4 separate regions of the Homo sapiens genome follow, and all the other regions are linked to region 2. The links come from fine-mapping of genetic effects on gene expression. A gene starts in region 2. Each other region holds a variant in brackets. All regions are shown on one strand. Distances are from middle to middle.

Evidence for each region. PIP is the estimated chance that this variant, and not a neighbour inherited with it, causes the effect.
Region 1: its variant is the best candidate, but not a certain one, in a credible set for the expression of TBX19 in whole blood (INTERVAL, PIP 0.61).
Region 3: its variant is the best candidate, but not a certain one, in a credible set for the expression of TBX19 in NK cells (Gilchrist 2021, PIP 0.50).
Region 4: its variant is the best candidate, but not a certain one, in a credible set for the expression of TBX19 in whole blood (INTERVAL, PIP 0.67).

What each region holds. Positions count from the first base shown.
Region 1 is chr1:168,361,170-168,367,424 of GRCh38, reverse strand. No RefSeq gene overlaps it. Among named protein-coding and RNA genes, the nearest start is that of MIR557, 11 kb to the left of the region's middle. The variant C/G (reference allele first, on the strand shown) is at 2,934.
Region 2 is chr1:168,277,589-168,283,843 of GRCh38, reverse strand. It overlaps TBX19 (T-box transcription factor 19), which reads right to left and starts at 2,967. Exons shown (of 8, transcript NM_005149.3): 1 at 2,551-2,967. The coding sequence starts at 2,753.
Region 3 is chr1:168,956,072-168,962,326 of GRCh38, reverse strand. The region is part of intron 3 of LINC00970 (long intergenic non-protein coding RNA 970); the gene reads left to right. Among named protein-coding and RNA genes, the nearest start is that of LINC00970, 130 kb to the left of the region's middle. The variant G/A (reference allele first, on the strand shown) is at 3,024.
Region 4 is chr1:168,323,083-168,329,337 of GRCh38, reverse strand. No RefSeq gene overlaps it. Among named protein-coding and RNA genes, the nearest start is that of TBX19, 45 kb to the right of the region's middle. The variant T/C (reference allele first, on the strand shown) is at 3,432.

The DNA of each region.
Region 1 (6,255 bases), 84 kb before region 2:
CCTGTCCCTAACTCCCAACTTCCACTCAGTTCAAATCTTGCCCTTTGTGCCAATTCAGTACATCTATTCCCTATTCCCTCATCAGCTGGTTATTCTTCTACCGACAGTGACTTCCTTCCCCTCTGCCAACCTGACATCCTCCCACTTTTCAAGATCCAACTCAAATCCCAACTCCTTCATGCCACTTTCCTCAGCCAGCCCACCCAGGGGGCTTTGGCCTTCCCCGTTGGTCTCCATTTACAGGTTTTATACATGGTACCATATTGCCTTATGTATTGCCTCCAATCTTGCCTTCATTGATCCCTACGTATTAGTATCGTCTTTTCATAAGGAATATGTGCTTCTCAAGAAAGGGGCCCTATCTTTATTTTTACACCTTTCTCTCACCCCCTGCCTCCTATTCTGTTAGCCAGAGAATTGTATTGAGTAAACACAGGTTGGCTAAATAAGTAACTCTCTGACAGAATTATATATCTTCCGAGCATTCATAAGTGTTCAGAAAATGGTGCTATGTGCCATAATATTTAGGGAGCCCTGGTTTTCCTGAAGATAGTTTTCAAAAAACAAGATGCCTCCGAGTTTGCCGATGGTCTCATAAATAACTATGCAGTCACCTCCCTTGTACACCAGCAGCTCTTTCAGCTAAGAGATCTACACATTCTGAGCTCTCCTCTCCTTACCACCTCCCAACCTCATCTCCATAAGTCCATGGTCACAGCATTGATGTTTTGAAAAAAATCAAAGCTTAGAGGAAATGTAAAGAGAATAATCTATCAAACTGCCCCATCCTCTTTTGGGCCCTCTGCCTGATTTAAATCTACCTCCAGATTTGTGGACCCCATACTTTTCATGACTAATTTTACTTAAGTAGACTCTCTTTACTGCCATTTTTAAAATAATAATTTCAGGAAACTCATTTTCTCACCCAGTGGCATGTATTATGAAATACCCAGTACTGCTGTTTCTTTCACGAGCCTTCCAGTAACAGAAGAATCTGACGCTCCCCTCTTTCCTTTCCTCCATTCTTTCCCTGCCCAAGCTTTCCATCTGGCATCATCATCATCATTACCATCCTAACAGTGCTAGCCACAGCTGACACAGCCCTCTCATGGCCCTTATCTATTTCACCCTGCTCCAATTGCTGTCAGTGCACAACCAAGATTCTCAGGGGCCCTCGTCTCCCTTCCCCTGCCGGCCACTCCACAGCTACAGCATTCCCAGGCCACCACATGATTTCTGTGGATAAAGTGACCCACTCGTGGTAGAGGAAAGTGTCACAGAGTGGCAGGAGCCAGGAAAGGTGGCAGGGAAGGGCTGTAACAAGAGGACAGACATAAAGCTAAAACCCAAAGATCAAACTGAATGGCTGGTAGAAATACCAGTCCCATTTAGAAAACTGCTTCTACCCCTGTGGATGTCATTGCCAGCTTGGAGTTTTCTTAGTGTCATGATAAGGTGAAAGGTTGGGACAAATGCTGACAGCAGCACTTCCTTTCCTTCAAACACCAGGTGGTGCCAGATACAGATTTCTTTCAGCCGTAAGTCAACCTAGTGACAGAGAGTAGTCGTCCAATGAAGCTCACAGAGCAGCCTTCATGTACAAAGGGATTGTGTTCCACTCGTGTCCAAGTCCATTTCTGTGAACTTAAAAATGCATTTTCCCATAGAATTGTTTTTATAAAAGGTGGCTGCGTTCCAAAACCACCTGCAAAAATTCCCATCCAAAATGTAGTTGAAAGAAAAGTCACCTAGTAGGGAGAGACAAATAACTCTGATACTAGGAATGAATGTCAAAGATGATTTTAAATAATGGGTAAAACTAGATAGGGAGTTCTTTGAGTGCATGATTTTTTTCTTATTTAATTATTTTTCTGCTTTCCCAGTCTTAGCCGACTGCCCATCACTAAATGTTTTTACTCATTTCAGTGCTTGAGAAAAAAGCAGTTTTCATTAAAATTGTATTCAGATGTATCTAAAAACTTGTGTGGATTTTCTTTTTTTTTTTTCTTTTATTTGAGACAGTCTCACGCTGTCACCCAGGCTGGAGTACACTGGCACAATCTCAGCTCACTGCACTCTCCATCTCCTGGGTTCAAACGATTCTCCTGCCTCAGCCTCCCAAGTAGCTAGGATTACAGGAGCCCACCACCACACCCAGCTAATTTTTGTTTTTTGGTTTTTTTTTTTTTCAGTTTCACCGTGTTGGCCAGGCTGGTCTCGAACTCCTGACCTCAAATGACCCACCCGCTTCAGCCTCCCAAAGTGCTGGGTTTACAGGAGTGAGGCACCACGCCAGACCTGGCTTTTCTAAAATGACTCCCAGGATTTTTGATCCTGACTATACCAGTTGCCTAATTTCACCCTCAGATATAGAACTTTCCTTTCCACTGATGTTTTGATGGCAATATTCATGCATTTATCAATGATAATTTAAAAAATGGTCTACAAATGGACTAAACAAATAAAAGAGATAAAGGAGGAAAAAAGAAAAGGAAGTAAAGGAGGGAGATTCTTCTAAAGTACCTGGGCAAAATTCCAGGGGATAAGGTGGGGAATATTGTTAAGCTAGAAAGGAAAGAAAGCAAGAGGGAGAGAGAAGAAAAAAGGGAAGAAAAGAGAGAAGAGGAGAGGGAGAGGGAAAGGGAGGAGAAGAGAAAAACCAAGACAAGCAAGACAGGGGAAAGGAAGCGGGCAATGCATTGCATGTTCTTCCAGGTAGGGAAAGAAAGACTGTGGCCAGGACAAGATATTAGAGCTGACACTGCCACCTGCCCCTCTCACAGTCCACCTTGACTGGGTGGCTTATGTCTGCCTGGTGTGGTTTGAGCGTATCTATGTGGCTGTGCTGGAGGGCAAGCTTACATTGGTTTCATGCTTACGGAGTTTCTCTACTTCAAAAGTAAACATTACAGTGAGTTAGAGAAGAGCAAGCT[C/G]TAGCCTAAGGAATCTACTATTGGCATTTTACAAAGGTAATGGTGAAATTCACCTTTCTTTTTCCCATCTGCATGATGGGAGAATATAGTACAGTGTTTAGAGCTCAGGCTCTGGAGTCAGACAAAGGCTTAGAAATCCAAGCTCCTACTCTTCCTTGCTCTGGGACCTTGGGAAAGTTACTTAATGATTACTGACCTCCGTTTCCTCACTTACAAAATGGAAAAAATTATATCTTCCTCAAGGAAATGAAGATTAAAAGAAATATCACATGTAAACAGCCAGGTACCATGCTTGGTATCTGATACATTTTTTAACATGGTAGCCATTATTTTTCTTACCATTATAGAACAGTAATTGGTGTCACAAGATTATTAAGGCTACCATGAAAACTAAATAATCTCGTGCCAGCAAAGTGACACATTACATATCACCAACCAGCATAACTGGGAGTTGAAGAACTAGCAAAAAGAGAAGCTGCTGAATGGGGACTGAGCGCAAATCCACAGTATGAGCCAGATCTGCAGGGCAAGCCTGTCCTCCCAACACCTGGAGCTCAATGGGAATATGAGCATTCATGTGGTGGGGAAGTGGGGCAGTACACAGGGGACTTCTGCCACACTGTCCAGCTGGCCAGCAACTAACTGTCTTAGTCCATTTGTGCTGCTAAAACTAAATACCTGAGACTTGGTAATTTATAAAGAACAGAAATTTATTTTCTCACAGTTCTGGAGACTGGAAAGTCCAAGATCAAAATCCTGGTATTTGGTCTGGTGAGGACCTTCTTGCTGCAACCTCACATGGCAGAAGGTGGGAGGGCAAGAGAGAGCCGAAGAGCAGGTTAGCAAGCCAACTGAATGCTGGCAGAAGCCTCTTTAATAAGTGCCTTGATCCCATGAATGACAGAGGAGCCCTTATGGCCTAATCACCTCTGAAAGGCTCCCATCGCCTAATACTGTCATATTGGCACCACTTGAATTTTGAAAGCGACGTATTCAAACCATAACAGAAACCCACATTCTATTTGGAAGAATTTCTCATTTTTGTGAATCTTGGTAAGAGAGAGTCTGCCTCCTACATACTACAGGAGCCAACTGAACTCTTTCTTCCAGAGATGCCAGTAGGGATACCAGTACCATTTAGAAAACTGCTTCTACCCCTTTGGATGTCATTGCCAGCTTGAGGTTTTCTTAGTGTCATGATAAGGTGAAGTGTTGGAACAAATGCTGACAGCAGCACTTCCTTTCCTTCAAACACCAGATGGTGCCAGATACAGATTTCTTTCAGCCATAAGTCAACCTAGTGACTTAGAGAGTAGTCGTCCAATGAAGCTATGAGTTATGAAAAAAAGCACCTTGGTTTCCTGCCTCATGACCCACAGGAGCCAACCCGGTTCTGTTTTCAGTGATGGGTATCTGAGTTACCGGCAGCGAATGTGTACAAGTCTGAAGCAACCTCAATTCTTGCCTCCTCAGAAGAAAAAAATTGACTGAGGGACATAAGGCAGAAGAAGAAACTGAGGCAAATTTTAGAGCATGAGTGAGAGTTAATTAAAAAGCTTTAGAGCAGGAATGAAAAGAAAGTAAAGTACACTTGGAAGAGGGCTAAGCGAGTGTCTTGGAGGACAAGTGTGGGATTTGATGTTTTGGCTTGGAGTTTTATATGTTGGCATACTTCTGGGGTCTTGCATCCCTTCTCCCTGCTTCTTCCTTTGGGGTGGGTTTTCTGCATGTGTAATGGCCTGCTAGTGCTTGGGAGGGGAACGTCAGTGTCTTTACACATGCTCACTTGAGGCGTTCTTCCCATTCCGGTGCAATGCCCACAGAAGGTCATATACAAGTTAAACTCCACCATTTTGCCTCTTAATGCACATGCTTGAGCTCACTCGCCCAACTCCTGAAATTTTATCAGGAAGCTACTGATCACCAGTTTCAGGTTTTTTCTATCTATAGGGAGACTGCCTTTCCCTGGCACTGGCTGTGACCAATTATTATTTTAGAGAGACAGTTGAAAACCACCTGATCATCACCTGATGGTTGCCCCACATTATTAGGCAGATCCACCTCCTGCCCTGCTCACACCTGACTAGCTACTTACTGTAACAATTCCTGCATGCTTGTCATGCCTGATTGTTCAGCTTCCCAAGGAGTTGCAAGCCCCAGATTCTATTTCTGTTATTTAAACCCAGAAGAGTCTGACCTGGCACCTTATAAGGTCAGTGGACTCAATAGTTCCTCAGTTGCACTTCTTGCCCAGTGATGACCTTGGTCACTTTATAAGATCATTTCCCTCTTCAGAAACTACAGAGCATCTTGACAGTCCAACATCCCAACCAAAGCAGAGATAAACTGTACCTCACTCCCAATCAAGGACCCACCAGCCCCTTCGTCAACACCTGAGTTATGGTTACTGAGTACTTAGGGAGGAATTCTTCTAAGTCCTTTGCAAGAATTAATTTATTTAGTGCTTGCACTACCCTACAAAGTAGATACAATTATTATCTTATCCCCTGTTTCATAGAGGAGGAAATAGAGTTCAGAGAGGTTAACACACGTACCTAAAGTTACAGGAAAGAAACAGGACTAGGCTTTGAACCCAGGCAGTCAGACTCCACAGCCTAGCATCATACACCAACTTATACTGCTTCTCAAAAGCTGCCTAAAAATAAGTACACAGAGTTATTTAGTGCTAACATGTGCTATGAAGAAAAACACAGTAGGGAGATGGGTAAGGAGAAAAAAAGAGTGATGGGCTGATCTTTTTGTAGGATGCTCAGAGGAAGGCCTGTTAGAATGGAGTTGCTATAAACTGAGAGAGTGAAGAGTGAAGAAGAGTGGGTTTGGAGAACTATTTCTGGCCTTTGGTGCCACTCAGAACTACTCAGTCACACTTCTATATAAAATATCTTCCAAGATCTGAATAAAACTCTCTCTTCTCTACCCTTCCATAAATCACCCCATAATTTTGTGCAATGCTCACTTTCCAGTGTTGTAACCACCTTGAAGACCTGCTTTGACCACAGCCCTGACTCTCAATGTCTTCCTTAAATGGTAAGTCTGCCACCGACTCCAGACTCAGACCCAACAGCACACAGGCAAGTTCTTTACACTCAATCTAGACCTTGCCTGCCTCTGAACTCTCATTGTCTGTAGCTGCTGTATCTTTTGGCTCCCAGATCTTTTCCCACGAACAGTTCTCATTCTATATTCTTTCTTCATATGAGTCAAGGATAAAATTCTTGAACAGGACAAAGTCAAGGTCCAGGACAGAGTCCTCTGCCTCAACCAGAGACCATCCCACAGGCTGAGAATGGATGTTGTTTGT
Region 2 (6,255 bases):
TTACCACCCCAAATGATGCTTTTTTAAAAAGTCAAGGTGACAATGTCAATGAAAAAGGGCCCAGGTGACATTATGAATGAAAAAGGCTAGGACTGGGTAATCATACCAGGAACATTCTTCTCCACAGGGAAGGGCCACAAATCTACCTGCACCAGGTGCGGGAGTTGATGTGGAGGGCAAGGATTTGAAGGAGACACAAAGAGTCTATAGACATAGGAGAATGGGTAGAAAGGAGGCATAGAGGAATAAATAGTTAGGGAGAAAAGAGAGAAGGAAGAAGGGAGTAAAGAAGATGAAGCAAGAAAGATGTCTATATTAACAAAGGTAAAGTGTGACTAATGGTTTAATCTGAGAAACTAAGAGGTTGGGGGTAATTTCAGACCAAGTTCATTCATTATTAAGTACATCAATTTCTTATGGACTTGTCTTCCCTTCTTTAATCAAAGTATAAAGGAAACTTTCTATCTCCTGGCAAAATCTTGACCCTAAAGGGCTCCGAGAGCTTAGGAGAATTTAAGAAAAAGATTTCATCTATAGGAAGACGGCAAACACAGCAGGACATCCATAGATAAGAACAGCCAAGTTCACCGCAATCAGACTTTTTCTACAAAGAATATTGTTCATGTAGCTAATATTAAATGACGTTAAAGATGAAGGATTTCATTTTGCTTTTTAAAGACAGGGTCTCACCGTGTTGCCCAGACTGATCCCGGGCTCAAGGACCCCTTGCCTCAGCCTCCTGCGTAGCTGGGACAACAGGAGCACACCACCACACTGGGCTGATGTGAAGAATATTACATTTTAAATATAGGGGAAAATTACATAGGCAATAAAAAGGCAAGATAAAACTTTTCTTAAATGGTAAAAGTACATTCCAATGTAACATATTATTAAATTGGAATTTATCATGGTTTCAGAAACTTTTATTATTTATTCCTTATTGAAATAGATGAACCATATATTGACTTGGTAATTGTACTTATTTTTACTTTAATAAATGGCCAATTTGACAGCCCAATCAATAGCATAAGGCTAGGTATTACTGTAATTAGTATCCAATAATACAAAGAAAAATAAGCAGAATGTTCTACCTATAATCAGATATAATAAAATTTTTACAGTTGCATCTTTGCCCATTTTTAAAGGGTCAGAGACTAAATCCAATTAAGAATTTGGTGTAATTCTGTGAAATTAAAACTATGTTTTATGTTTTCTTCTATGAAAGAAGCTAAAAATAATGTGTAAATACAGGTCAAGAGAAGGAACTATAATTACAGTAACAATATTAAAAGCAATAAATCTATATGAAATAAGTGTGGAACCCATTTTGAGAAAGAAAATATAAAAATCAAGCAAGGTTGATATTCCTGCTACTGGTATAATCGCAATTTCTTGAAATGCCCTAATTCAGGTATGGCTTTCATTTTAGAAAGCATTTTAATGCCATGTAACAGCTCTCGAGTTCATAACTCTTCAAGATTGACAAGAAATAGTTCATTTTCTATACTGTGCTTTATTAAAATATAGAAAACCGAGACATCAGGAACGGAAGCACTTTGCACAAGGACAAAAGCCTGACAGAAAGAAGTTCAGATGGCCTCGGCTCTTCTCTTTTATCAGAATTCTCTCGAGGGTGTCATAATTAGAGTTCAGCCAAAACTAAGCCTACTGAAAATGCCTTTCAGCATTTTGTACTTTTGTGACCATGTGTATGAAAAGCTATGTGAACACCAGCTGAATGTTGGAGCCAGTTTGGCCAAGCTGCGAGCGGTGAGATTTTGTTTCAAAATATTTGCGTCTCCTCTACGAAGTGAAATCTTCTAATATTACCTGGACAGCCCCTTAGCAGACTAGGTTTAATAGAATCTGAGAAATGCCACCAGAGATCAGTTTCAGTTAATCCCTAAATTTGTTGCACTGATAAGAAAGAAGGCATCTTCTTTTCTCTAAAGCAGAATAATATGTTTTCATCCACTATTACTGCAACAGCTTTCATATCATCACAAACACACACAATCTCAAATGAACACTCACCACAAACACACACGGGGAAGCAGATGAAGTGATAGGCAATGAGTTTACATTTGCCCTTTTGCTTCCAATCTTCAACTAGCCAAACATTTCTGGCAAGTTTGCTATACTTAGGAGGAGATCATCCAGCTTCCAAATAAAGTTGTCTTTCACCTTATCTGGACGGAGTTGGGGCTCAGGTCTGCGATAGGGTATGCAGCTAGTCACAAATTAATATTATTTTCTGACATTTAAGTCCATTTTCCCATCCCAATGGGGCATGCCCCCCACTTTATGGTAATTTCCCCAGAATTTCTCCATTTAAAATGCACATAAGACAGGTGGCTTCATCCTCTGATGATCTCAGATAAATTAATTAAGTTGGCTGGAGGAAAGCCATTGGAGACAGTCGTTCCTGTAAGCATGTTTAATCAGATCCCGCCGCCTCTGAGTGAAGAGCGGCAGCCTCTTCAATATTCAAGGGGTCTCATCTCTCCTGCCAAGCCCTGCCAGCCCACGCGGGGCGGCAGATAAACTCACCTGCCATTCTTGGTCACAATCATCTCATTAGTGACTTCCTTGAATCTCTGCCAGAGAGGTGCATCCTCCAGGATGATCTGAAGTTGCTTCTCCGTAGGGTCGCCTTTTTCCCTCCCTGCCTGAAGCTCACTCTCCACCACATTGAGCAGATGAGAAACAGTGCCATCGCTGGGCTTCCGAGTGCCCAGCTCACTCATGGCCATAGGCACTTCTCGAACTTTGCCGAGAGCCGTTACCCAACTTGCCTGCTTCTAGCTTCTTCCTTCCCTCACTTGCCTGCTTTTCAAACCCACTTGAACAGTGCTTGGGGAGCGGAGAGAAGATACCCTGGCTCTTGCCTAAGCTCCTAGGATGACACCCCTTAAAAGTCTCCACATTATGCCACCAACCTGTTAAGCTTTAGTTGGGGAGCGGGGTGGAGGCAGGGGAGAGGTAGGGAAGAAAAAGCCCTCTCTTAATTACTCATTGGATCAGGTGGGAGAGAGCCTGGCTTTCCCATTGGCTGCCGTGCACAGAGTAGATATTTAAGAAGAGTACTCCATCCAAATTATCAGGCTTTTATCTTGTTGTACCTGAAGAGGTCTAATCGGTGTATTGAGGACCATTTTCCCATTAATTAAAATTATTCCAGGCCCAGACTGCACTGTCAGGCAAATCATGTTTGTGCATAAATCATGACATGTGGCACCTATAAAGAAAAGGGTCCTGGGGAGAATCGACAAACTTGATGCCCAGGCTATAAGCTACTCTCCAGCATCTTAGACGAAGGCTCTGGAGGGAAGAAAGCATGTATGGAAGGTCCAAGGCACTGTGCCAAGAAACATGACTACTGTACCAGAGAATAAAGGAAGACACTCTGTGTGCCACTGCTCAAGGGTCAGGGCTCCGGAGAAAAGAAAAGAGCTCAGAATCTCTTTCTCCCAGGGTGTCCCCTACTGATCATCTCTCTCCTGAATGTCCTATACTCGCTCACACCCCACTTTTCTCAAGGGCCCTCCTCACCTCCTACAAATGGAGCTGTGAATGTTGTCCTTCCTCCCTAGAGTCTAGAACCCCAATTTTTGTTATCTCTAGCCTTTGCCAGAGGAAGACAAAAAAGCAGCTAGTATCATATTAATCTCGCTAAGGAACACTCTGCCCCCAGTCAGTGAAAATAAACTGTTTACATTATTAGGCAGAGCAATTTCAATCTTTGGTCCAGAAAGGCATTCTGGTTTTCTCTTTAGACAATTCATCCTTATTTTGGCATTCCAGGATGAATCCCACATTCCCTGGGAAGAAACACTAGTAGAAAGCTTTTCTTTTGCCCACAACACACAGTACTAATGGCGAGTGAGTGGATGGCGGGTGGAAGAGACAGGAGCAGAGGAAGCTCTACCTCCTCTGGCCCCCAACCTTGAGTAGAGCCTGGGGGTTGTGAGTTTTTCTCTCATTTCAATACAAAGTAAGAAAACAAGAACATAAGGAAAACAAACCCAAAAAGGTAAGATAAAGTCAGGGTAAGGATGACAGAAAATGTATTCAGGATCTCCTATGCTACATACCTATGAAGCATCACATACAGCAAGGAACAAACAGAAATGGCCTGCGCCTTTACAGAATTAACAATATGATGGAGAAAATAAATGATATAAAGTAAACAACAACTAAGTAATTATCAATAGTGATAAGTCTATGAAGGCTACTTAAAAGGGTGAAGTGATCAAGAAAAATTTGTGCACAGCAGGGTAGGGAACTCCAGTTAGATGGAGTTGTATAGAACAGCTTCTTTGAGGAGGAGACATTTCAGATGAGACCAAAAGCTCAGCAAAGATGTAGTCGGGGAAGAGTTGGCAGAGTGCCAAGCAGAAGAATTACATGTGAGAAGCATGGCTTGAGCCAGGTAGAAATCTCCAGGGAGGCCAGTGTGACCAGAATGTGGTGGTAAAGAGAGCAGAATGAGATGTTCTTTGAGAGAGGGCCAGGCCAGACCATGAGGCCTTAGAAGTCATGATGAAGAATTTGAATGTTCTTCAGCATGAGATAGGAAACAATTGGAGAGTATTAAGTAGGAAAACAGCATGATTGGCTTTGTGTTTGCAAAAAATCTAATCGATTTGTGAAGAATAGACTAGGAAAGGGCAAGAGCTGAAGTAAAGAACAAATTAGAGGCTATGACAGCAATTCAGGCAAGAGCTGGTGATGGCTTAGCCTAGGGTAGTGGCAGTGGCCAAAAAATGAAGTGTACAGGTTCTAGATACACTTTAGAAGTCTATATGACAGAACAACATGAGAGACTGGATATGGGGGTGAGGGAGAGCAGAGAACCATGTGCCTGATCAGAACAATTATTAGATGGCAGGGCCATTTACTGAGATATGGAAGGTGAGGGAGGTGGAAGGGTAGGCAGAGGTACAGTTTGGTTAGGAGACTCAAACATTTCAGTTTCATACAGCTAACACTGAAAAGAATGTGGCAGGCTGAATAAGGACCCCCTGCAAAAGAGACCCATTTCCGAATCCCCAGAACCTGTGAGTGTATTACCTCACATGGGAAAAAGGGACTTTTCAAATGTGATTCAGTTAAGGGTCTTGAGATGGGGAGATTAACCTGGGTTATCTGGTGAGCCCAGTGCAATCGCAAAAATAAGAGGGAGGCAGGAGGATCAAAGTCAGAGGAAGAAGATGTAAGGACAGATGCAGAAGTCAGAGGGGAGAGAAGATGCTACACTCCTGGCTTTGAAGATGGAAAAAGGGGCCAGAAGACACGGAATGTAAGAAGTCTCTAGAAGCTGGGAAAGATAAGGAAATAGATTATCCTCTAAAGCCTCCAGAAGGAACATAGTCCTGCTGACACCTTGGCTTTAGTCCAGTGAAACTAATTTTGGGCTTCTGATTCCCCAAACTGTAAGATAATAGGTTTATGTTGTTTTAAACCACTAAGTTTGTGGTAATTTGGTACAGCAGCAATAGGAGACTAATGCAAAGACTATTAGGTATATAAGTGGAGATTTTGAGAAGGCGCTGCTTAGAACTGTGACACAATTGTGGCTCTGAGCTTCCAAGCAGCCAATGCAAAGTGGGGGAATATAATCTGGCATACATTAAACTGTGTCCCTAAAATAAAAGCAAGCCTTGACCTGTGAGAAATTTCCCCCATAAATCTTTATGAGGAAAACGCTGTGAGATACAGTGAACAATGTCTCCCCAAACAGTCTACCAGTAAGATAAAAATCTTTCCTTCAAATAGTTTTACAATCTAGAAGGGACAGAAAGACACGCTTGTGGAATTCCAATACAGAAATGTGAAGTGTTCTGAAGCACCAGTAAGGGAGAAATGAAGAAAAAACAGAACTAAGACTGGAATATGACAAGGATGACCACTTACACTACTGTTATTCAACATAATACTAGAAGTTCTAGCTACAGCAATCAGACAAGAGAAAGAAGTAAAAGACATCCAAACTGGAAAGCAGGAGGTCAAATTATCCTTGTTTGCAGATGATATGATCTTATATTTGGAAAAAACTAAAGACTCTGCCAAAAAACTATTAGAATATATAAACAAATTCAATAAAGTTGCAGGATACAAAATCAACATACAAAAATCAATATAGCACTTCTATAGGCCAACAGTGAACAATCTGAAAAAGATATCAAAAAAGTAATCCCATTTACAACAGCTACAAATAAAATAAAATATCTAGGAATAATCTTAACCAAAGAA
Region 3 (6,255 bases), 680 kb before region 2:
GCTCTGCAATTATCAGGAACCCAGGTCCCTTCAGTCTTGCTGCTCTGCCATCCTCAAACTGCATCTTCTATCTTGTGGTCCAACATGGCTGTTTGTTCCAGCTCCCACCATCACATCTGTATTTCAACCAGTAGGAGGAGAGTAAAGGGAAGGGAATCATACTTAATTGATAATGATGAGACAACATCATTATCACAGAAGAGCTGCAGAAGAGGCATATCCAAGGTACATTGGGTACTGTGTTGATCTTGAGTCTCCTTGCTGGAGTGCAGTGGCATGATCTCAGCTCACTGCAACCTCCACCTCCCGGGTTCAAGTGATTATCCTGCCTCAGCCTCCCGAGTAGCTGGGACTACAGGTGCGTGCCACCACGCCCAGCTAATTTTTGTATTTTTAGTAGAGATGGGGTTTCACCATGTTGGCCAGGATGGTCTTGATCTCTTGACCTCGTGATCTGCCCGCCTTGGCCTCCTAAAGTGCTGGGATTGCAGACATGAGCCAGCGTGCCTGGCCTGTTCCTCCTCTTTTTTTCATTCCTCTTGTTTTGTTTGAGGACTGATCTTACAGGTTGCATCTCCTAGGTTTCCCTGTCAGTGACCTTACTTGGATTCAGCCAATGGGAAAAAGGGAGAAGCTGAAGCATTTCTTCCTATCTGCTTGTCTTGTAAGTGGCTGCAGTGATGACTGCACTTTATGGATCTGCTCCAGCTGGCCACGGGTTCTAGTAACACTGACTTCCTTCTTTCCAGTCCTTGGGTGGTAATAGCTTCTTGCTGGCTGTTAATCTCTAGGTTGCTTCACCATCCTGTTTGGGTTTAACTTTTCCATCACCTGGAATCAATTCTTTATATTAAAACACTCCAGTTGTAAGTAGTTAAGGCAGTCAGACCCTGGCTGACACAGGAAGGGGTACTCTACCTAGGGTGAATTCATAGAGGAAGTCACATTTGTACTAGATCTTGAAGTTTTGCTGACTGATTTCCATTAATTAATTCCAGTGTGGTCATTCTGGACTCTGGTCTAGAGAAGACGCAGGGGAGAAACAGTTTGGAGCTCTGATCACTCAGCTAGGATTAGCAGAACCTAGGATGGTGGGTTACAACTGTTTCTAACTCAGGGTTTCTCACCCTCAACACTGTTGATATTTTGGGCCAGAAACGTCTTTGTTGAGGTGCTGTCTTGTGCATTGTACGATGTTTAGTGCATCCCTGGCCTCTATTCATTAGGTGCCAATAGAATCCCCCCATCCTGCCTAAGTTGTGACAACCAGAAATGTCTCTAGACATTGTCAAATGTCCTGGCTGGGCGGGCTGTAAAATGTCCGACGTTGACAACCATTCTTCAAGTTTTGCTGATGGCTCAGCATCCAAGTTCCACACAGGAGAACCCTTTGATTCTAGGGTCAGAAACGCACTACCTTCCAAAAAGAGCAGCTGCTACTCTGCTCTCTCCTTCATCTCTACTTCCCTCAGCCAGCAAGTGCCTCCATTTTTGATAAACACTGTCTACTAGAGAACAATGATCCCATAGTCTGGAAGGGAGTGTCAGGGCCAAGCCATTGTCTTCCTGCCAGGAACCAGTGACACAGGAAATGGGGAATCATCAACCATTACAATACTATAATTCTCTTTGGAGTTTTGAGATAAAAGTTGCAGAGCTCTGAAGGATGTTTACTTTTATCCTTCATGATAAACTTTTTTCATAAGACAAATTTTCTGCCTCTTACCACCTTAATACACACACCTAACCTGGTCTATTGAACAAAAAGGAACAAATATACTTATCCTCTTTGAGAAATAACAACATTCCTACTGCTATTACCATTCCATCAAGAGCTGCCTATGACAAACCAGGCATTTTGTATGCATGTCAATGTATCTGGTTAATCTTCACAATAATGTAATGTAAATATGTTTTGCAATGTAAATATGTTTTTCTCAGTTTTATAGCTAAAGAAACTACTTGCCTAAGAAAACAAATTTAGTGTTGGTGAGGGACATCAAAATTTCCCTTATCAGTTTAAGATAATGGCCACACCTCATGCTTGCATTGTGCTTTATGAGTTTGTAACTATTACTTTACATGTATTGTCTAAGTTATACTTATAGCTTAAGTACTATGGAAATTCAGAGAAGCTCTAAAATGTTTGAGGTGGATAGAGAAAGTTTCGTAAAGAACTGGGGTGATTGCAGGAAGTTTCATAAAGAAAATAAGCTGGTCCCTGAAACCGATGTGTATCTGAATACTTATTGCTAATGGTGTTGGTAGAGGTGGTAGTGGATGGTTCATTTTAGACAGAAAACATGAGCAAAGATCCAGAGTTAAGAATAAAGAGAGCAAATACCCCGAGTTAAGAATAAAGGGGTATGCAGGGGAAGCAAGGGAATAGGCTTTCCCAGCAGGAGCTGGTGATTCATGATGGTGGGGAGAGAGATGGGGTAGGGATGTTTAGAGGATCAGTGTATACGGAGCCTGGAAATCCAGACGAGGGAGTCTGGATATTATGAAACGGTCATTGTGAGATGATTGAAGTTTGTAAGCAGAAATGAATATTTTACATCCCACTCAGGTGTCACTTCCTCGGAGAAGCCTTATCTACCCCCTTCCTTGTGCTCTGCTTTGAGTGTCAGTCTCCCATGGTGCCCTGGTACTTTTCTTGATCATGGCCATATAAGACTGTGAGCTCTTGGAGGACAGAACTCTTTGTGTCCCCAAGGCTTGGCACATAGTAGGACCATCTTTGTGTCCCCAAGGCCTGGCACATAGTAGGACCTCAGTAAATAGACTAAATGATGAATAAATGGACCCTAACAGGGAACCACATCCTCCTCTGACTTCTCAGGGCCATTTGAGGATGGATTTCTGGGAGCAGAAGCCACTGGATGTGTGAAAACACAGGTTGTGAATGCAGGAAGGTGCAGATGGAATCTCAGCGCTTTCTCAAAGAGGTTCACTTCAGAAGGGCATAGCTGGAGGGTAGATGAACCGAGAAATTTTCAGGTTGTTGAGAACAAGGAAATGTC[G/A]GTGAGAATCACCAAGTTCATCAAAATGTACTTGAAAAGCATGACCATCTTCACTCATCTTGAAACGTGGCATGTTTCAGACATTATGAGACAATTAGTCATTGCTGTTGCTTCAACTAATGTCCACTGCTTTTCTGTAGGAAATAAAATAGTCTTATTCTTAATCTAAAACACCAGAAAATATTCTTCCAGATGCTTTCCTCTTCCTGCATTTCCCCCCACTCCCCTCGCATTCACATTGGCATGTGGACATGTTCTCACCAAGTGAGTCAGTTAGATAGGAACATTAATTTATTTGAGCAGATGTCACTTTAAAAAAACAACATTGCACCATGGCACAAAGCTTACAAATAATGTCTGTCATGTAGCAGTGGTGCTAATATAAAGAAAAGGGGTAATTTTGGTGAATTCAAAGAAGATAAGATTACTGTAATTATGGGAAACTGCTTCTAAATAATCCCAGAAAAAAAGAAAGGCTGTTTTGTCTCATGTTGAGATAGGGGAAGGAGGAGGGCGGCAGCCTGGCAAGGAGGCAGGCTGTCAGAGGGGAGGAGGTGGAGATGGCGATGTTTAGTGGTGTGTTCACGTGGCTGACTTTGCCTGTCTTTAGCAGAACACTTCCCCTAAAAGTACCTGAGATGTTTGAAAGTCACTGGGGGGAAATATCCAAAAGTTTGCTCAGAATAAACTACAACTCTCCCTCCTCACAGGTTGCCTAAATCTAATCCATCTCTCAAAGCCCTTCTCAAATCCTTTGCCTGCATGAAACCATCCATTTCAATCTAGCTTATAGGACCCTTTACCTCTTGAAAGTGGGCAGTGAGTCATATGGCAATTAGGGTGAGTTTTATGACTTTGGTGTTGATAAACTATCTTTTATTGTCATTTAGTTTTTCATATGTTCACATACTGATTCCCTAATAAGGTCGACATCTCCTTGAATGGAGACATGGTCGTGTATATCGCCCTGGGGTCCCACACAGGGCCTTACATAAAGTAGGCCCTTAATGCATGTTGGTTGGTTGATTGATTTTCAGTATTAATGTGAATGGCTGCCAGCTATGGTGGTCCACTTATGTGAGGGGCATCTGATGAATTAAAAAGAAGAAGGAAACTAACATCCATCAAGCACCCATGAACCAGGCCCTTCATTGGGATTGGATGATCTTAATTTACTTATTTAAAAGAGAGGTTCCCAACCCCACATCTGTGGACTGCTAGGAATGGGGCTGCACAGCAGGAGGTGAGCAGCAGGCAAGTGAACCAAGCTTCATTTGTATTTACTGCTGCTCCCCATAACTCGCATTACCACATGAGCTCCACCTTCTATTAGGTCAATGGCAGCATTAGATTCTCATAGGAACATGAACCCTATTGTGAACTGCACATGCAAGGGATCTAGGTTACATGCTCCTTACGAGAATCTGATGATCTGTCACTATCTCCCATCACCCTTAGATGGGACCTTCTAGTTGCAAGAAAACAAGTTCAGGGCTTCCATTGATTCTACATTATGGTGAGTTGTATAATCATTGTATTATATATGGCAATGTAATAATAATAGAAATAAAGTGCACAATAAATGTAATGTTCTTGAATCATCCCAAAACCATATCCCCTGAGCCCATCTGTGGAAAAGTTGTCTTCTACAAAACTGGTCCTGGTGCCAAGAAGGTTGGGGATCACTGATTTAAAACACCATGAAAGAGATATCCTAATTAAGGATGAGCAAATACAGATTCAGGGAAATTAAAAGTGGGTTTCCCAAGCCCATAAAACTCTTAAGTGACAGAAGCTAAAATGTAATATTAGACTTGTCTGATTCCAAAGTTTCAGATAAGCTTTAATGCCCCCAATATCCTCCCTTTTCATTTGGGTGATAACAAAGTGTGGCAGTTTTATCCTAGTAGCTTGAGACTTTGACACCTGTTGAATTAAAAACACTCCTAGGGAGCACCCAGATTCATAAAGCAAGTTCTTAGAGAACTACAAAGAGACTTAGTTTCTGACACAATAATAGTGGGAGACTTTAACACCCCACTGTCAATATTAGACAGATCAATGAGACAGAAAATTAACAAGGATATTCAGGACTTGAACTCAGCTCTGGACCAAGCAGACCTAACAGACATCTACAGAACTCTCCACCCCAAATCAACAGAATATACATTCTTCTCAGCACCACATCGCACTTACTCTAAAATTGACCACGTAATTGGAAATAAAACACTCCTCAGCAAATGCAAAAGAACGGAAATCATAACAGTCTCTTAGACAACAGTGCAATCAAATTAGAACACAGGATTAAGAAACTCACTCAAAAACCATACAACTGCATGGAAACTGATCAACCTGCTCCTGAATGACTATGGGGTAAATAATGAAATTAAGGCAGAAATAAGTTGTTTGAAACCAATGAGAACAAAGACACAACATAATAGAATCTCTGGGACACAGCTAAAACAGTGTTTAGAAGGAAATTATACCCACAGGAGAAAGCGGAAAAGATCTAAAATCAACACCCTAACATCACAATTAAAAAGAATTAGAGAAGCAAGAGCAAACAAATTCAAAAGCTAACAGAAGACAAGAAATAACTAAGATCAGAGCAGAACTGAAGGAGACAGAGACGCAAAAAAACTTCAAAAAAAATCAGTGAATCCAGGAGGTGGTTTTTTGAAAAGATTAACAAAATAGACTCCTTGCAAGACTAATAAAGAAGAAATGAGAGATGAATCAAATAGTCACAATAAAAAATGATAAAGGGGATATCACCAGTGATCCCACAAATACAAACTACCATCAGATAATACTGTAAACACCTCTATGCAAATAAACTAGAAAATCTAGAAGAAATGGATAAATTCCTCGACACATACACCCTCCCAAGACTAAACCAGGAAGAAGTCGAATCCCTGAATAGACCAATAACAAGTTTTGAAATTGATGCAGTAAGTAATAGCCTATGAACCAAAGAAAGCCCAGGAACAGATGGATTCACAGCTGAATTCTACCAGAGGTAAAAAGAGGAGCTGGTACCATTCCTTCTGAAACTATTCCAAATAATAGAAAAAGGGAGACTGCTCCCTAACTAATTTTATGAGACCAGCATCATCCTGATACCAAAACCTGGCAGAGACACAACAAAAAAGAAAATTTCAGGCCAATATCCCTGATGAACATTGATGTGAAAATCCTCAATAAAATACTGGCAAACCGAATCCAGCAGCAC
Region 4 (6,255 bases), 45 kb before region 2:
GGATATGACCTTCTGCAACTGGGGGAGCTGGCTAAGCAGTTTCTGTAAAATTGTTGTCTTCATATCTGATGCTGGAACTTGAAGTCCTCAGGGCAAGCAGTTGGGGAAGGAGTGAGTGTACAGTGGAGAACAAGAATAAGCTAGAACCCACAAGCATGAGCCAAAACCCACACAGATAAATAACTAGTGTCAGTTCTTGTTACCTCAACATGAATAGTATGAGTGTCCTACAGAAACCAGGGCCCATCATCACTGGAACTAAACAGACACACCTGGCCCAGGAGTCAGAGAAGCTGAAGGAGGAGTCAGATAGGCTGGAGCAATTGCAGGCCGAGCCACCGCCTCGCTCCAATGGATAAGCGAGAACTTGTATGAGCTGAAACGTGGATGCTGCTTCACTTCCCATTAGACTCTCTCTGGGGGATCCCCTAAGTGGCAATATATAAGAAAAAGATTCTGGGAAATACAGTTCAGCCTAGCAAAATTCACACATGACAAAGCTACTACATTGAATCAGAGAATACAGCTAAGACTTGAAATCAAAATGAAGCTCTTGTCTCAACTCAGACCTTAGGGCAGGCCTGTGGCAATTGATCTGACCTAGAGAACAAGAGAAAGGGGAGTGCAGCCTCCTTACACACTGGAGGGTGGCAGAGTATAGACGGGGGATTCAGTGGCTTTACCAATGTGGTAGCAGCCAGAGACAGGATTATTACTAAGCTAAGGAGGTTTAAGTATCAGAGCTCTTACTTGCAAAGATCTGTCCAAGATGTTAGGGGGACACTATCAAATCAATAGTCATAATTTTTGCATTTCCAAAATTGTTCAATTTAAGGCACGACACGACCTGGGTCCCTCCCTTAATCTCTGCTTAACCTGGTCCAGTGGGCATCTGATTGTCACTGGGTTCCCTATATGTTATTTCTTCTCCCATAGAAAAAAGCAGGTGAAATGGAGAGGTGGCAGAATTTTTTGTCCCCAAAACTTCTTCAAGGGGACAGAATCTCCTAAAGAGAAAGTGTCTTTCTTTAAGGGTTGATAAAGGAACAATGGGAAAAGAGGCAAATTATCACAATCTGTAAAGAAACGGCCCAGCTGGTCACCAAACACGTTTCCTCTTCTTCGTGGGCACAGGCCTAGACATTTCCCACCCCCTCTCGTGGCCTGTGATGGATTTCTAATGGAATATGAAAGGAAGCAATAGGCATTGTTTCCAGTGTTTGCTGAGAAGAATCATCCATATACACTTTGTCTATGTACTTTCTCCTGCTGGCTGAGGTAAAAGAGAGAAGACATCCACCACCACTACCACCAAGGGAAACTTGAGAGCCTGTGTTAAAAATGGAAGAGCCACGAAATGGTTTCTTCAATCCAGAAGCCGTGTCAGAATGTCACATAAGTAAAAACTGAAGTCTTACTGTGTGAATTCACTGAGATTCAGGGCTCTAATCTATCACAGAAGCTAGGATCCTGTACAAAGACACATACCTATATAATTGTTTGTTTTTGGTTTTTGGTTTTTTGGGGGGTGTTTTTGTTTTTGATTTTGTTTTTTTGAGATGGAGTATCGCTCTGTCACCCAGGCTGGAGTGCGATGGCGCGATCTTGGCTCACTGCAACCTCCACCTCCCGGGTTCAAGCGATTCTCCTGCCTCAGCCTCCTGAGTAGCTGGGACTACAGGTGTGCACCACTATGCCCAGCTAATTTTTGTATTTTTAGTAGAGATGGGGTTCACCATATTGCTCAGGCTGGCCTTGAACTCCCGACCTTGTGATCCATCCGCCCAGCCTCCCAAAGTGCTGGGATTACAGGTGTGAGCCACCACACCCGGCCCAAATAAACCATTTCTTTTTAATCAAAAATAAGTATCATATGAACAATGTGGTAAAGAAACTTAAAGAGAGAAAGATCTGTTTTGTCAGCCATGAGAGCTTCATAAGTTAGACGGATTGTGTATTGGACCTTAAAAGTTAAATGCGGTTTAATAGGAAAACATTAAAGAAAGCAGTTCCACGTGGAGAAACAGTAAGAGCCAAAACTAAGATGTGGAAAGGGTAATAGTAGATTGGCTAGAACATAAGTTTTATGTAAAAGAATACTGGGCAATTAAACTGGAATGGCATGTTGAGGTCAATTTTAGAAGGTTTTCCGCAGGAGGCTAAGAAAATTGGCTTTTATATTTCTAGTAGTGAGTTATTGAAGGTTTCTGAGCAGAGTGGTGACGCAACTCACATGGAACTTTAGGAAGATGATGCTCATAGCAATTGTAAGATGGCCTAAAGACAGAGAGGGGAAGCCATAGCCATAATCCAAAAATATGAGAATAAGAACATGAATGACAGCAGTGTTGTGAGACAGTTTTTTATGGGTCTCTCACAGCTTAGTTGTCCAAATAATGTGAAAAATGTATTGTAAGCTCTAAAGCACAATATAAATATCAATTATTATTTTTATTACCATTAACATTATTAAAGGAAAAGGAAGGGGATGAAATTCCAAGCCAATGTTTGCTGCTTAAACAAGCAATCCTCAATAAAGTTGGAGGTGGGAGACAACAGATTAAACTAATGATTAAAGTGGGTTTTGGGAATTATTTGTAATTGTCAATTTTTTAAATTCTCTCACTCTCCCCATTAATATGGAAACTTCAGAGTCAATCATATCAGAACCAATGGGAAACATCTGATGAGGGATTGGAGAGAGACACAGAAAGATTATGCTGGGAATTGTTATTAAGAAGATTCTCCCATGAATAATGGTAAGTTTATCTTTAGCGATCATAAAATTTTATTTAAAATGCATTTCTGTGTTGCTTACTTCTCCTAACTTCATTCATCTTCCACTCTTCATTTTTTGTATCCACAAGTCACACCAGCTTTGCTAAAGTGATAACTGATAGCACTCAGTCAGGATTGAGACTAAGCATAGCACAGCCTTTTCACAGGACTTGCAATGTCTATAGAGCATAAATTGGTGGGAGGGAAGATGAAAGTTGTACTTGCTTTTGTATTTGGATAAAAACAAGAATGTAAGCATCACTCCATGGGGACCCAGTACTGGGGAGATGCTTTTCTACCCTGGTACCTTTTAAGTGCATTACACTGAAATATTTATGCATGTTGCATTGCAAATAAAAGGAATCAACTAAATGCTAAACTCATAACATGATTAATTTATTGGACATCTATGGTCCTGTACCTCCAGTAATCACAGAAAGTCTTCAAACAACAAATAACTCTTTAAAAAAAAAAAAAAGATAAAATAATGAGGTCAGCAGGAATAATTGGATACTCTGTAAAGGTCAGAAACATGATATCAGAATAAAGGAAAGAGAGTTTAGTTCAGTTCAGAAACACTCACTGAGCCTCTACAATGTAATGGGCATTTGTGTAAGTTGCCAGAAATACAAAGATGAAGGAGACACAGGGCC[T/C]GTCCTTGGGGAGCTTCAGCCAGTGAAGGAGAAAGATGCCTAAAAATATAAAACTGAGGCAGTTACAAAAATCAAGACCTTCAGATGTCTACATTGTCAATTGACCTTGGGAAAGACCACCAACTGATACAAGAAGAATTATGTGGAAGGTTCTCCATTTTTGTCTAGGCTCTAGGAGGAAGAAAAATTGTTCCTTGATAGTTTAAAATCTCAAACTGAGATCTCAAATTTAGGGGTGGATAGTTTAAAATCTTGAACTTGAGACTGGATTTAGCACTGGTTCAACATGTGGAGACAAGAAAACCCCAAGGTAAGAAATTAACATTAAAATTGGTCCTGATCTGATCTGGTAGATTGTTTTGTTTTGTTTTGTTTTTTTCAAAAATGGCCATAAGAACATTTCCCATGCCACATGCTCTTCTTACGAAATCCCTTTGACATATCTGCTATCAAAAGATGGAGTCCACTTTCCCTCACCCTTGAATCTGGGTGAGCTGCAACCATGACAGAAGTGATACCCTATGCCTTCCAAGGCTAGGTAATAAAAGGTAAGACAGATTTTTCTGGCTCTCTTCTGGATGCTCACTGTTAGAACCCAGCCCCATGCCATGAGCCCAGTCACTTCAAGAGGACACATGTAGGCTGTAGGCATTCCAGCCAACAGTTCTAGCTGAGGTCCCAGATAACATTCAGTGTCAACCACCAGACATGTGAGTGAAGGAGGCTTTATATGACTCAGCCCCCAGGCTTTGGTTCTTCTCAGCTAGGGTCCCAGGTACCACGGAGTAGAGACCAGCCGTCCCTACTGTGCCCTTTTTGAAGTTTTGTCCAGTAGACTCCATGAGCTAATTAAATGGTGGTTTTGTGTCACTACACTTGAGGGGGTTAGTTATGCAGCAATAGCAGCTAGAACAAATGGTGATACGTCAGAGGTACAGAATGAAAGCAAATATAAGCCATTCTGAAAAAACACTCATGACTCAAATCACAGGCAATGAGAGAGACAGAGACAGAGAGAGAAATCCTCCAACGAAGATGAGCTACCCATCAAAAGTACAAATATACAATAAGAAATCATTCATGAGTGTGAGTCAATAGACACAATAAACTGCAGAATTAGATCCCAAGAACTTTGAATAATAGTATGATAATCAGACCAGCATATAAAATGAGTATATTTACAATTATTTAAATTTTTTAAAAAACAACAAGCAGTTGTAAAACTTAGGAATAGTTTCACTGCTGCAAATAACACAAAACCCAAAATAATTTACTTTAAGATAGAAGGTTATTTTGTCCTATGAAAACAAATCCCAGAAGTAAGAAGTCTAGGGCTGATATGATAACTCAAAGAGTATGGTGAACTCATAGTCCTTCTATCTTGTGGCTTCTACCTCATAGTTCAAGATAATTTGATTCTCAAATTGTGGCTTCTACCTCATGGTTCAAGATAACTGCTCAAGTTCTAATTATTACATCTGCATTCCGCCAACAAGCAAAGGGAATCCAGGCTAAGAAGTTCTCAACCCTCCCTTTAAGAGCACTTCCTGGAAGTCACACCGTATTGGAGCACATTATTTGTGGCTTCAGCTTTTTCACAGGACTTTCAATGTCTACAGAGGATAAATGTGAGGGAGGGAGGAAGGATAGAATTTGTATGCTCTTGGGTCTTTGCATAAAAACAAGAATGTAAATATCACCCCATGGAGGCACAGAACTGGGAAGATGCTTTTCTACCCTGGTACATTTTAAGTGGATTACACTGAATTATTTACACGGACAGTTTGCTTATACTCTGTACTGGGTTGAATAGTGTCCCTCAAAATTCATATCCACCCAGAAACTCAGAATTTGACCTTTCTGGAAATAACATATTTGCAGGTATAATTAGTTAAAATGAGATCACACTGGATTAAGATGGGCCTTAATCCAGTGACTAGTGTCTTTATAAAAAGAGGAAACAGACAGACACACAGGGAGAACACCAGGTGATAATGGAGGCAGAGATTGGAGTACGGCATCTACAAGCCATGGAATGCCAAAATTGCCAGCAGCCACCATAAGGCAGGAAAAGGCATGGAAATAGCACACACATCTGTAGGAGAGGCTGGGAGGTGCCTTGATTCTATGTTGCCAGAAATGACATAACAATTACATTCATTTAGTACCAATGTTTGTTAGCTATATACTCTGATTGCCTTTTCATACAGTGATTTTTGTAATATTATTTTCCATAGAGAAACTAGAAAAGTAATTTAGTCTATCTCTAAAATGACTAATCAAGATTTAACGTGGTGGGATTTGGGGGTATTAATATTTTAGAACGGTTTCTTTCCATGTCACAAGCAGTTGTTGCTAATTTCATGTATATTTCTAAAATTGTCAAATTTAGGGAGACTTGTATTAAGTTTCTTTTATATCCGAGACATTACAAGTGTATTTGCTGCTTATGGTGTTGCTAAGGGTTTCTGCCTTACAAACACAGGACTTCTAATACATACATTTTTAGAACGCCTATCAAAAAGAGAAATAAAGTATGGTGTATTGCCAGACATGGTGGCTCACATCTGTAATCCCAGCACTTTGGGAGGCCGAGGTGAAAGAATTACTTAAGCCCAGGAGTTTGAGACCAGCCTGGTCAACATCATGAGATCCTCATCTCTACGAAAAATAAAAAAGATTAGTTGGGCGTGGTGGGACACATGATGTAGCTTTGTAACACAGGGTGATAGCAAGATTGGAAACTTATTTATTACTGCTTACATTGTAAATTGATGCAACCAGTTTAGAGAACAATTGAACAATACCTGCAAAAGTTGAGCTA